Linked DNA regions of Homo sapiens. The protein of the gene in region 1 interacts with the protein of each later gene in a pairwise test. Each region holds a gene or a part of one and is shown on either strand. Other genes may lie near its edges.

Evidence for each region.
Region 2: the proteins of JAZF1 (region 1) and NR2C2 interact in binary tests that used the Homo sapiens proteins (3 or more experiments, as listed by UniProt).

What each region holds. Positions count from the first base shown.
Region 1 is NC_000007.14:27,830,067-27,834,830, forward strand, and holds the end of JAZF1 (juxtaposed with another zinc finger protein 1), read right to left. Parts: intron 2,911-4,764; coding exon 2,734-2,910; 3' UTR 511-2,733; downstream 1-510. UniProt on the Homo sapiens protein: Acts as a transcriptional corepressor of orphan nuclear receptor NR2C2. Inhibits expression of the gluconeogenesis enzyme PCK2 through inhibition of NR2C2 activity.
Region 2 is NC_000003.12:15,020,583-15,027,627, reverse strand, and holds part of NR2C2 (nuclear receptor subfamily 2 group C member 2), read right to left. Parts: intron 6,876-7,045; coding exon 6,696-6,875; intron 4,429-6,695; coding exon 4,281-4,428; intron 3,514-4,280; coding exon 3,420-3,513; intron 1-3,419. UniProt on the Homo sapiens protein: Orphan nuclear receptor that can act as a repressor or activator of transcription.

The DNA.
Region 1 (4,764 bases):
GTTTGTGGAAGCAGAGTTTGTATATTGTTAGAATCCTTTAAAAAGTTTTTTGAGTCTAGGGCAAACCAGTATGAGGCATTCATATGCCAGCTGTTAGGACACAGCAGTCCTAGGAAGCAATAGCTTTGGAGACTTTCAGCTTCCAGATAGGTTATATACTTAGGTAAAATATGTTCAACAATGGGAGCATTTTTGTTGGAGTTAATAATTATGGACCATGTTAATCCAAAAGTATCCTTGGAATATTTATTATAGTAGTAGACACTGTTCATCTTACTAGCCTAGAACTTATTTTAAAATAGTTTAAGTAAGTAAGTCCAAGCTTAATTTGTTATTGACAGAAAAGTAATACAGCCTAATCTAATCTAAGCAAAAATGTAAGGGAATAAAGTCTACATGCATCAACTGAACAGCCTTAGAATGAGGAACTGAATGGATATATTAATTTCCATGGTAAACTTGATACTGGTTTTCATAATGGACACTAAGGAAAATAAAGAGCCATATTTATTTTTGGGTCAGAGGCAGTTTATTTTAAATGTGATTTCATTTACATTTATAAGCAGCTTTTCTTGACAGGAATTTTGATTAAATTGCCTTCAGTTCTAAAACAAACCTCTGTTGCTTTCAGACTTAATGTGCTCTGTCCCCAACAAAACATATGAAAATATAATTTAAAGCACAGTTTTCACAGACACAGTACAATACATTCACTATACACAGTATAACAAAATATTCCCATCCTTACCTGTTTAGTAATACTGTCACAATGAATAAGTAAATAGAAATTGGAATTTATCTTTGAAAGCATTGAAAGAAATTTAACATGCACAATGACTATTTTATGACTGTTTAGCTGTTGAACTACTGATCCAGCCTGCAGTTTCTTGCACTAGAAAGAGCGAAGCTAAATAATAATTGCTGGCCTAAAAAATTTTTTTTGGTCAATTGTAGGTAGATATGAAATAGCCAAGTGGGGCCTTCTTATGCACCAACTAGTTGCGTCTCATGTCTGGATCACCCTTTTAAACATAGGATAACACTGTATATTCAGGACCAAGACCATACTTCAGATCTGAGGAAATTTTTAGAGGGCAGTGTTTTTATAAATACTTTGAATCCCTCATAATGAAGGATTTTAGAACTTATGAATATAGAGGTTTACTCATCTAACAAACAGAACTGTCATCCTTTCAAAATGTCTGAAAATTGAGGAGGGACCCCTGCTTCCCAGTTATATGTGATGTAAGACTTTTCATCAAATGGGAACATGGGAAGAAACTTTATAAGCAATTTGAGTTTGTTTTATGGGCAGTTAGCTATCTCAAAGCATTTTTTATTGCATTATTAGGCAACTGGTAAACTCTCGTGTTTAAGGAATAGCACTTGGGAGAAAAGAACACTCAAGGCATGATGGTACTGTCGGTGAGGAAAAACTTAAGGAATGGTCCAGATGTAGATTACTCTAATAGGTCGTATTAGTCATGCTTTTCTTTGACCACCTGCTGCAAGAAGCACTTAATTGTCAATAAGGCTCATTTTCCTATTTCAGCAAAGTGTTTGTTTTATAAAGCTAAACAGACATTTCCAATGAGAATGCAGACCTCTCTACAATGTGATGAGAAAAGTACCTTTTAAAAAAAGTAAAAAATGAGCATGAAGAAGAGGCAATAGGGGTCTTAACAAAAGTGTTCATCTTTGAAACGTGCTTAGAATTTTAGTTCTGATTTGCAACCCACAGGTTTGGTAGGGCAGTGGTTGCAAGAATTGGCAACACATAAACATTAAATTGTTGGCAATAGAGAACTACAAAGTGCTTTAAAACTTCATCTGAAGATGAAGATATAACTAAACTTCACACACACACACTTTGCACTGAAGTATTTCAAAGTCTTTTCTAACAGATTTCAGGGAAAAAAGTATTTCACTAAATGGGTATCTTGGTCCGCAGATATCAATAGGCATAAATTGAATCCCTTGTACCCAGCAGGCACTCAATCAATGTGTGTTAAATGAATGAACGAACTGAATAGACTATTTTGTACAAAATGCCATTTATAACACTAAAATGACTAGTAAGTCAGATGGCAAGATTTTCAGCTTTTTAAAGGGCAAAAGGATTTGCAAGATAATATAAAACACAGAAAGCACACCTTTACGTATGTTATTTAAATATGAAAATATTTTTAGCATATTATGTTAAACATTCTTTCTTATTTATATTTCCATTACCTAAAGTCTTTCTACTCACAAATACTAACTCCATTATGTAAGGCATGGTAACCAGTTTGATAATGAAGGTATTATTTTGGTTTTGAACATATGTGAGTTGATGTGTTGAAAACTTCAATCACATTACAATCTTGAAAAAAAAATCTCAGTGCCAGCCCCTCCTCCCCCCAGGTTGATACCACCGCAATACAATTCAACAATATGCAACATGCCCTCAATTTTATTTTGTTTTGGGGGAAATGTGCTGAAGAACCTAGAGCTTTTTTTGTTTAGCACCTTATATCAAAGTAATGAAAATGGGTATGATGATTACATGTGCAAATGTACAAAATCATTAACTCTACAAAGATACATCATTCCAAAATTACAGAAAAAATTTAAAGCATGCATTTAATTCTTTTTCTTTAAAGGGTTGCTGAATGCTTCCCCTGAAAAAAGGTGGCTGTTTTCAAAATCAGCAACTGCTGGTGAGGATTTCTTGGCACAGTTATGACCAGCATGTTATTGCTGCATCTTCCTGATAATCTCAGCCGACACCGGGGGATGGAAATTGATTGTGTGGTGCCGCAGGCCCTGAGCTGTCTTGTAACTCTTCCCACAGCGACACTTGAATGGTTTGCGGACACGAATCTGTGTTCTGTGACCATTCTTAGCGTGATACTTTATGCCATTCACATTCTGTGGAGAAGACAAAAATATTTATTACATGGATTCACAGGATACCTGTCAAACTTCGGAAACCTCAATTTGGGTCTGGATTGCAGTTCCTGGATGGCAGCTGTTTAGAGTGTAGTCTTTTGCAAGGACTCCAGTTGGGACCCTTCAAGGACATTCTGGTGTGTCGGTCATGGGCTGTACGGATGGTCACACACACAGCTGACTCAAAATTTCAGATGTGCCTCAATTACTCTGAAAATGAAAGTACTGATTTCTTCCAATTTTATATAAAATATATATTTAGGACTTACAGACTGTATAAAGAAAATCCTCTGAATCTTTTCCACTCTAAAGAAAGTTAACAGTGAACAATCCTACACAAATATCCTCAGCATGACCAACAAAATATCTTTCTAAAGAAAAACATCAGGGCATATCCCAAAAGTTTAACATATAGAAATTTTTGATTTGGAAACTCAATTTACAGCTTGCTTCTAGATAACTGTGTTAACAGTTCCCTACCATGCCTTAACCAGAGTTTTTGTCAGTTTTCTGCTCTGCACTAAGCCAGTATCTCTGATGCCACTGTGGGAGCTACTTGTTGCCCAAATCTTGTCCCCGCCGTACAGTTGTACATGTTTAATAAGCACCTGTAGTCAGACTAGTCCTTACCTTAAGTATTACATTCCAAACATACAATGAACTTTAAAAATTTAAGGTTATATAATGTTAGTCACTAAGATTGGACTTCTTAGCATCTGGATACTAAAGTTATCAAAATGCTTTCTAAATTTCTGTTTGTCGGTTTTGCTAGTTCACCAGCATATTCTATGTAAGATTCCGTATTCTATGTAAGAGTCACTCTCTACAGTTTTAACCACCAGTAATCCTCATCCCAATTAAATGGTGAGGAAATGGGCTTGAGGGTAGTAAGTAACTGGTGGAAGATCTAAGAAGGGACGGCGGACGTGTGGTATTTGAGATAGGTCTTAATTTCCAAGTCAGCAATTGCCAGATTAGAGAGTAAGGGAACACAGAAGAGACAGCCTGAAACAAAAAGCACAGATTTTAGGAGAGTGAGCTGTTTCCTAAAATATTACCTAAATCCAGTCCTGCTAGAGCCAGTCCCTTGCCCAACTGAAGGATTCCAACACAAATTGTTCCCACTCTTCATGGGATGCCTTCAAAGAGCTCCCAGAAAACAGCTCCCTGCTGTTGTCTCATGAATACCTAGCACAGTGCCTGGCACATTGTCGATGCTAAGTCTTTGTGAGTGAATGAAGTTACAACAGCACTTCCCAAGTTCACGCCTCACTAGTCTGGAAGAAGGGTTGCTACTAAATATAAACGTGGTGGTGATTACTACACTAGAGATGTGCAGTACACATGAATGCTTTTTTAAAAGTCCTTGGAAGAGAACTCTGCTGGACTTTGTTGAACCCAGGGGTGCCAAGTAGCAGCTGGCTATGCTCAGAGTCTGAAGGTTGTCCAGTGATTTGAAGCAGAAGGACAAACACTCTCCCCTGAACACCTGGCTCCAGGCCTTCTGCACCTCAGCCCTGTCCTTCCAGCATCAATCCTTTCAAACATAAGGTACTTCAGTCTTGTTAAGAGGCATGTTGGGGGTTTCAGAGCCTACTGGGGCAGGAAAGGGGAGGGTAGTGGTGGTGGTAGAATCAGACCCACTGAAATGTTAGATGGGTAGATATGCCCTGCCAGTCCCTGGCGGTTCCATCCCCTCCGAGGCCCAGGCACATGAGTGAAGAGGCCAACGTGTGTATCCAGCCCAAGTGAGCCTTCAGATGATTCTAGCCCCAACTGGTGTCTTAGAGCAACTGCATGAGACCCCAGGCGAGAACCACCTTGTTGAACCAG
Region 2 (7,045 bases), on another chromosome or scaffold:
AGACCCTGTCTCAATAACAAAATGAAACAACAAAACCCCAAAGATAATAGACTTCTCTCCAAAGAAGATATATAAACAGCCCATAAGCATATGAAGAGATGCTCAACATCATGAGAAATGCAAATCAAAATCACAATGACATACCACTTCACATCCACTGGGATGGCTACAATCAAAAAGATGGATAATAACAAGTGTTGGTAAGGATGTGGAGAAATGAGAACCTTCCTACACAGTTGGTGAGAATGTAAAGTGGTACAACACAAATGTCCATCAATTGACTAATGGATAAATAAAATGTGGTATAGCCATACAAAGGTGTATTATTAGGCTGGGCGTGGTGGCTCACGCCTATAATCCCAGCACTTTGGGAGGCCGAGGCAGGCAGATCACCTAAGGTCAGGAGTTCGAGACCAGCCTGCCCAACATGGTGAAACCTCATCTCTACTAAAAACACAAAATTGGCCAGGAGCGGTGGCTCACGCCTGTAATCCCAGCACTTTGGGAGGCCGAGGCGGGCGGATCGTGAGGTCAGGAGTTTAAGACCAGCCTGACCAACATGGTGAAACCCTATCTCTACTAAAAATACAAAAATTAGCTGGGTGTGGTGGCACGCACCTGCAATCCCAGCTACTCAGGAGGCTGAGGCAGGAGAATCGCTTGAACTCGGGAGGCGGAGGCTGCAGTAAGCCGAGATCGCACGATTGCACTCCAGCCTGGGCGACAGAGCGAGACTCCATCTCAAAACAAAACACACAAAATTAGCTGGGTATGGTGGCACATGCCTGTAATCCCAGCTACTCGGGAGGCTGAGGCAGGAGAATTGCTTGAACTCAGCAGGCAGAAGTTGCAGTGAGCCGAGGTGGCACCACTGCACTCTAGCCAAGGAAACAAGAGCGAAACTCTTGTCTTTAAAAAAAAACAGAGGTGCATTATTTGGCAATAAAAAGGAATGAAGTACTGATACATGCTATATCATGATGACCCTTAGAAACATCATGCTAAGTGAAAGAAGCCAGCCACAAAAGACCATATATTGTATGATTTCCTTTATATGAAATGTACAGAGTTGACAAAACCATAGAGTCAGAAAGCAGATTAGTGGTTGGTAGGGTTTGAGAAGAGGGGGAAAGGAGGAGTGACTACATAATAGGGTTTGGGGTTTATTCTGAGGTGACGAAAATATTCTAAAACTAGATAGTGGGGATGGTTTGTACAACCTTGTAAATATACCAAAAACCACTACATTATACACTAAAAGGGTGAGTTTTATGGCATGTGAATTATATTTCAATTAAAAAAGAAAGCCAGGGGTAGTGGCTCACGCCTGTAATCTCAGCACTCTGCAGGGACTAAGGTGGGTGAATTGCTTGAGTCCAGGAGTTCAAGACCAGACTGGGCAACATGGTGAAACACCGTCTCTACAAAAAAAATACGAAAAATTAGCCAGGCGTGGTGCTGTGCACCTACAGTCCCAGCTACTCGGAAGGCTGAGGTAAGAAGATTGCTTGAGCCTGGGAGGTGCAGGTTGCAATGAGCCAAGATCATACCACTGTACTCCAGCCTGGGCAACAGAGCAAGACCCTGTCTCAAAAAAAAAAAGAAAAAGAAAAAGAAAAGAAAGCCAGAGATATACTCAAACCAAGATATGTACACACAAGGTTATGTCTTGATTACAAAATGAAAAACTAGAATCAGTAGAAAAGGTCATAAACAGAAATGATTAAATCACAACAGACACATAGAATACTGTGCAGCTACTGTAAGATCCTCATTAACAGAAAGGTATGTTGAAGGAAATGAAGTTGAAGAAGAGTGAAATATAAAAAAGACAGAACAATACATATGGTTTGTACCAAAGCCAATGTCCTCGTTGTGATACTGTACCGTAGGTATGTATGACATAACCACTGGGAGGACCTGGGCGAAGGCTATGTGGGAGCTCTGTAATAGCACTGTACTTCCTTCATAGTAAATTATTTTAAATGTATAATTACTTCAAAGTAAAATTGGAAAACAGTTTCTGAAAGTAGCTTCCTGTGGGTGCTTTGCATATGTTTTATTATTCGTATCAAACTTCTGTGGGGGGTATTGTTGTTTCCATTGTACACAGGAAGGAATGGGGTAGGACACAGTCTGCCTCTGAAGCTCTTTCTCTTGATTCCTGAAATACCATACAGCTTTGTGGTCATTCTCCTCCAAAGTGACAATAACTAATTCCTAACCATTAACATTTATTGAATGCTCACTGTGTACCAAGAAATTTACAAGTGCAGGAAAGAAGCATGTGGCTACGAAGAGCACTGTCAGACTCTGAACCCAGTTCTAGCCAGTTCTGGAGTCTTGGTTCTCATTCCCAGTCTGTGTGTGGATGGCCCAATAGAATGGTTGCTGTGAATCCCTTGGTAATCTGTTTTTAAGGTTATCTGGGCCTTACTTTCAGGCTTACGCTTTCTCTGCATTTGACCATGCAGTCAGAGCCACTGTTCTAGAATGTGTGCTGCTGATAAGCTAAGCCCACGATGCGTGATCCATCAGCTCCCATCATGCATGTGGCCCCTGCCCAAAGACAGAAGGTGCAAGGCCCAGCCTGAGGACCAAGGCATGCAGGGCAGCTCTCCATGACAGGCAAGGGCTCTAAATTTTGTCTTCTCTTTCCCAAAAGAGGATGCCCTGTAATGCCCTGAGTACACCCATGAATGAGACTGTGAACAGATGAGGAGGAAGCCTGCAGGCCTTGCTCTGGTTCTAATGGTTGCAGCAATGCCAGTGTTCTCAATTACCAAGTCACCCTCTTAGAGTTGTGGCTTGCTGCTACTACTTCCTCATTACTTGGTTTACATCAGGAGCACCAGGATGAGACAAACAGTGAGTTCCCTGGCCTGGAAAAAATCCCCCTCCTTGGTTATCTTCACAGGAGCCAGCAAGTCTCCCCCTTTTGGACTGACGAACATCTCTGTCCACAAGTTAAATCCCTATGACTGATCTGCTCTAGCAAAGTTTTGGAACTGATAGATTCCTGGCTGAGCTTCCTCCTGAAGATCATCTAATAAAAAGGAACCCGGGGCTTTTGCAAAAAGGCCATCTGATAAGTATTTCTTTCCTTGGCTAGTAGTTTGCCAATGTGTATAAGAGAAAAAGAAAACTATAACAGAAAAGAGAACCACTGAATGTCCACCAAATTGACATCTAGACTGACATGTTACAGTGATTATGACCAGCCAGCTCTGATCTGAGAAGCCATCAGCATCTCTAAAACAAATCACAAGATAGCTATCACAACAATAAGGAGACCGAGACATAGGTCATGCTTTTGATGTGGTCTCTGAAGGCCAGGAAGAAAGTGGTGCACACAGTTAGAGAAGCAGCCTGCAATGTCAACATAAAGGATGAGAGAGAGCATGAGTAGAGAACGTCACCTTAGAATCCGTGGCCAGGAGAACTGTACCATCCTCACGTATCAAAGGCTGCTGGATGTTCACAAGCATCCCTGGATCAAGAAGACCTGTTTGTCTATTTAAGACATAAAGAAACTCAGAGTAGCTTCCAACATTTTATGCACAGTATGATCATGCTGCATTTACCTGTCCTTCCACATTTGTGAAGCTGTCTGAATAGTAGAAAAGCTCTAAGTAGACTCAGCCGCTTAGTGACTAAGCAGAACCCCCACCCCTGTCTCTCTGCAATGAGATATACATAAAGTCAGGTTTACAGCTTGAGACAGGATGAAATGCAGATGCATCCCCCAGGGCTTTCCAGGATGACTGCAGACTGTGGCCATTCTGCCTAGAAAAGTTAACTTGATTTTCAGAAAATCAGCAAGGCATCCTCAACTCCAGCTCTCTCTCTGATACATTTTGGATTGCTTGTTTTCCCCTCTTTCCGTTCCTTTTAAAGTAAGTTCAATAGATTATATTAAAAAGAATATACAAATTAACTGTAGCACTGAGACCTTATCTCACCTTGGGCCTTTTGTGTGTACTGCAGAAATGCCCCAATCTTGAATCATAAAATAATTGTCTTCCGTATGAATGATGCCTAAATTGCAGGACATAATCTGAATTCAAGGCTAGGAGAATTTCTGACCCCTTCATAAATCAGGCATCCTCAGGCCTGTCCAGAGGTGTGACTGAGCAGCTCCAGAAGGGGCAGAATTAGGCAACACAACGCTGGAGGCTATGGCAGATGGGTGGGAAGCCACAACAGTGCCTGCTGTGGGACACGTCTGTGCCTCCTCCATCAGCTGCAAAGGCTGATTGCAGTGAGAACAAGGGACTGACCTTGCTCCATCTTTGTCTGCCACAAACGTGGGAGTAGCTATCAGGGGACTTCTCAGGTCTTTCCGGATATAGATTTTCTCAGTTGAAGCAGCACAATTGCTTGGTTTCTCCCGTTGCACATCGAAGGGCTTCCGTTCACTCTGCACAGCTTAAATCACAACATAAATATTTGTGTTTAGAGAAACAATTCCAATCAATAAAAACCACAAGGGAAAACCCCAAATCCATTACTGCAGGGAGGATGACTCTGGTGCTAGGTTCATCTAGCTCAGCTTTCACAGTGGACTTTTCGGCCAGAGAGAAGGAATAAAGCCAAACCATGCCATGTCAAATCTAGAGGCATAAAAAAGACCTCACGATGGGTGGTATTCCCTGCTAAAAAAAACTGCAGCACAGCACCTATGTGGCCTATGGAAGCACCCATGAGCCTTCTGGGCCATTTTATTAATTTTATGCTATTATTTTATGTTATTATTTTATTATTTTTTGTAGAGATGAAGCCTCATTATGTTGCCCAGTCTGGACTCATCCTGGGCTCAAGCAAACCACTCGCCCCAGCCTGCCAAAGTGCTGGAATTACAGGCATAAGCCACCGTGCCCAGCTGGTTTTTACTTCATGCTGCTAACAAAATAGACTCTTTCAAGGATAAAAAAATGCCCATCTTTGGGCCGGGGGTGGTGGCTCACGTCTGTAATCCCAGCACTTTGGGAAGCCGAGATGGGTGGATCACTTGCCCAACATGGCAAAACCCGGCCTCTATTAAAAACACAAAAATTAGCCAGGTGTGGTGGCAGGCACCTGTAATCCCAGCTACTTGGGAGGCTGAGGCAGGGAGAATTGCTTGAACCTGGGAGGCGGAGGCTGCAGTGAGCCAAGACGCGGCACCACTGCACTCCAACCTGGGCAACAGAGCAAGACTCTGCCTCAAAAAAAAAAAAAAAAAAAAAAGAAAGAAAAAGAAAAAAGAAATGCCCACCTTCAAGTGGGCCCTTAATAGAATGCATTTCCTATGCCACAATTTGTAGAGGAACCCTTCTAATTTCCAACTCAAGTCTGAATAGCTTCTGCAAACTGTTTAATGGGTGTCAATTTTATATTATGCTAGCAAACTCTCCTTTTAGCAGTCTAATGTAAGAGCAGATATGCATGTTAGAAGCAACTGAAGAAAATGAAAGCTTTTTAAAGACAAAACTGATGAAGGTCAGGGACTAATATTCAGATATGCTACTAATCAAACTGCTATCCAGTTGAATATTGTGTTTGCAGCTACAGCTGTGTTCACAAGAAAACTGATTTCAGTCATTGCTCTGAGTAAAAATATTCATCATTGAGAAAAAGGACAGCTTGGCAATGTGGGCCAGTCCCACACCAAGTCAGTGATTTATTTATTCACTTTGGGCAAAGAGCAGTATCATTAGATAAAATAAAAACATCACACCAGGCAGAAATTAGGTTGATATTTCTAATTTCTCAAAAAATACATTTCCATTTATTCTCCAGTGAATTTTGTGGATTCCTGTTCCCAGAAACGTCAACAGCAATACTGAAATATATTGGTTTTCAGAGTTCCTAGAAAACTATGCAAAAGATGACAGAACCATGCAGCATACTCAGCGGAAGCCTGCAGTCCTGGGTCCTCGGCCACCAGCCTTGCCATGCAAGTTGCATGCAAGTTGCATGCCTTGCTCTGCTAAGCTCCATTTTCCTACTGTGGCTTAAGCCTAACTCCACTCTCCTTGGATTTCTTTGTGCTGCCCATCTTGAGTCCTGGTCTTCATGTTTTCACCACTAGCTAGGGAAGTGACCTCCATGCTGACTGGTCCCTGAAAACCCCCAAAATTCTGTCTATGGGAGTGGAAAGGAGGGGCCTGAGACCTTCCCTGGCTGCCCCACACATCCAGGAGCAATAGCTTTCTCTTTAGAATCCCAGCTACACAGAGGCTTGGCAAAGGACCTTATCCCAAAAGAAAGTAGAGGGGCTAAGAAGACAGGGAGTAGGCTCATGTAATCCTCAGGAGCAATATATAAGTAAGGTGATTAAGTAGATCACAGATGAGGACCCTGTGGCTGAGAGGCTACGTGTATCCTCAGGCATCATAGCTCTCTCTTAGTGGCACACCTGGAGGTAGATTTGGTATCAGCTTTCCTCCAAAGCCTGTGTTCAACCCACTCCACTAAGCTGCCTCCTGATGCATCTGTAATAAGGCTTTCCACACACACAGCAGGAAGAGACCAACCCCTGCAGCGTTGGCTCTCAATCACCTGGCTGACCCATGAGGTAAACCAAAATGAAGCCTGAGTGCATATTTTTTTCTTAAAGTATTTTAAGGCCAGGTATAGAAACCTTATTTAATGGACTCATTTACTGTCTCCCTCCACATTAACTCATGTGGTTTTTAAATATTGTTACTCACATTCCATTTTCATGCCCATCTCTAAGCATTTTTTCAGCCGGCAAAACTGACAGCGGTTCCGGTGATGTTTATTGATGATGCAGTCTTGGTTGCTCCGGCAGCTGTAGGTCAAATTTTTCCTCACACTCCTTTTGAAGAAACCTTTGCAACCTTCACAACTGACAGCCCCATAGTGACGGCCTGAAACAGGAGAAAGAATACACAAATATTTTGTGACTATATTTGTGGATTCACCAAAGAGGTGATCTGTCAGTTCCTGTGCAAGTCTCATTGAAGTGATGGGTGCCATACACTGTTAGATGCCAACAGCCACGTGGCCTGAGCATTAAGCATACTGGCCACACCCTTCA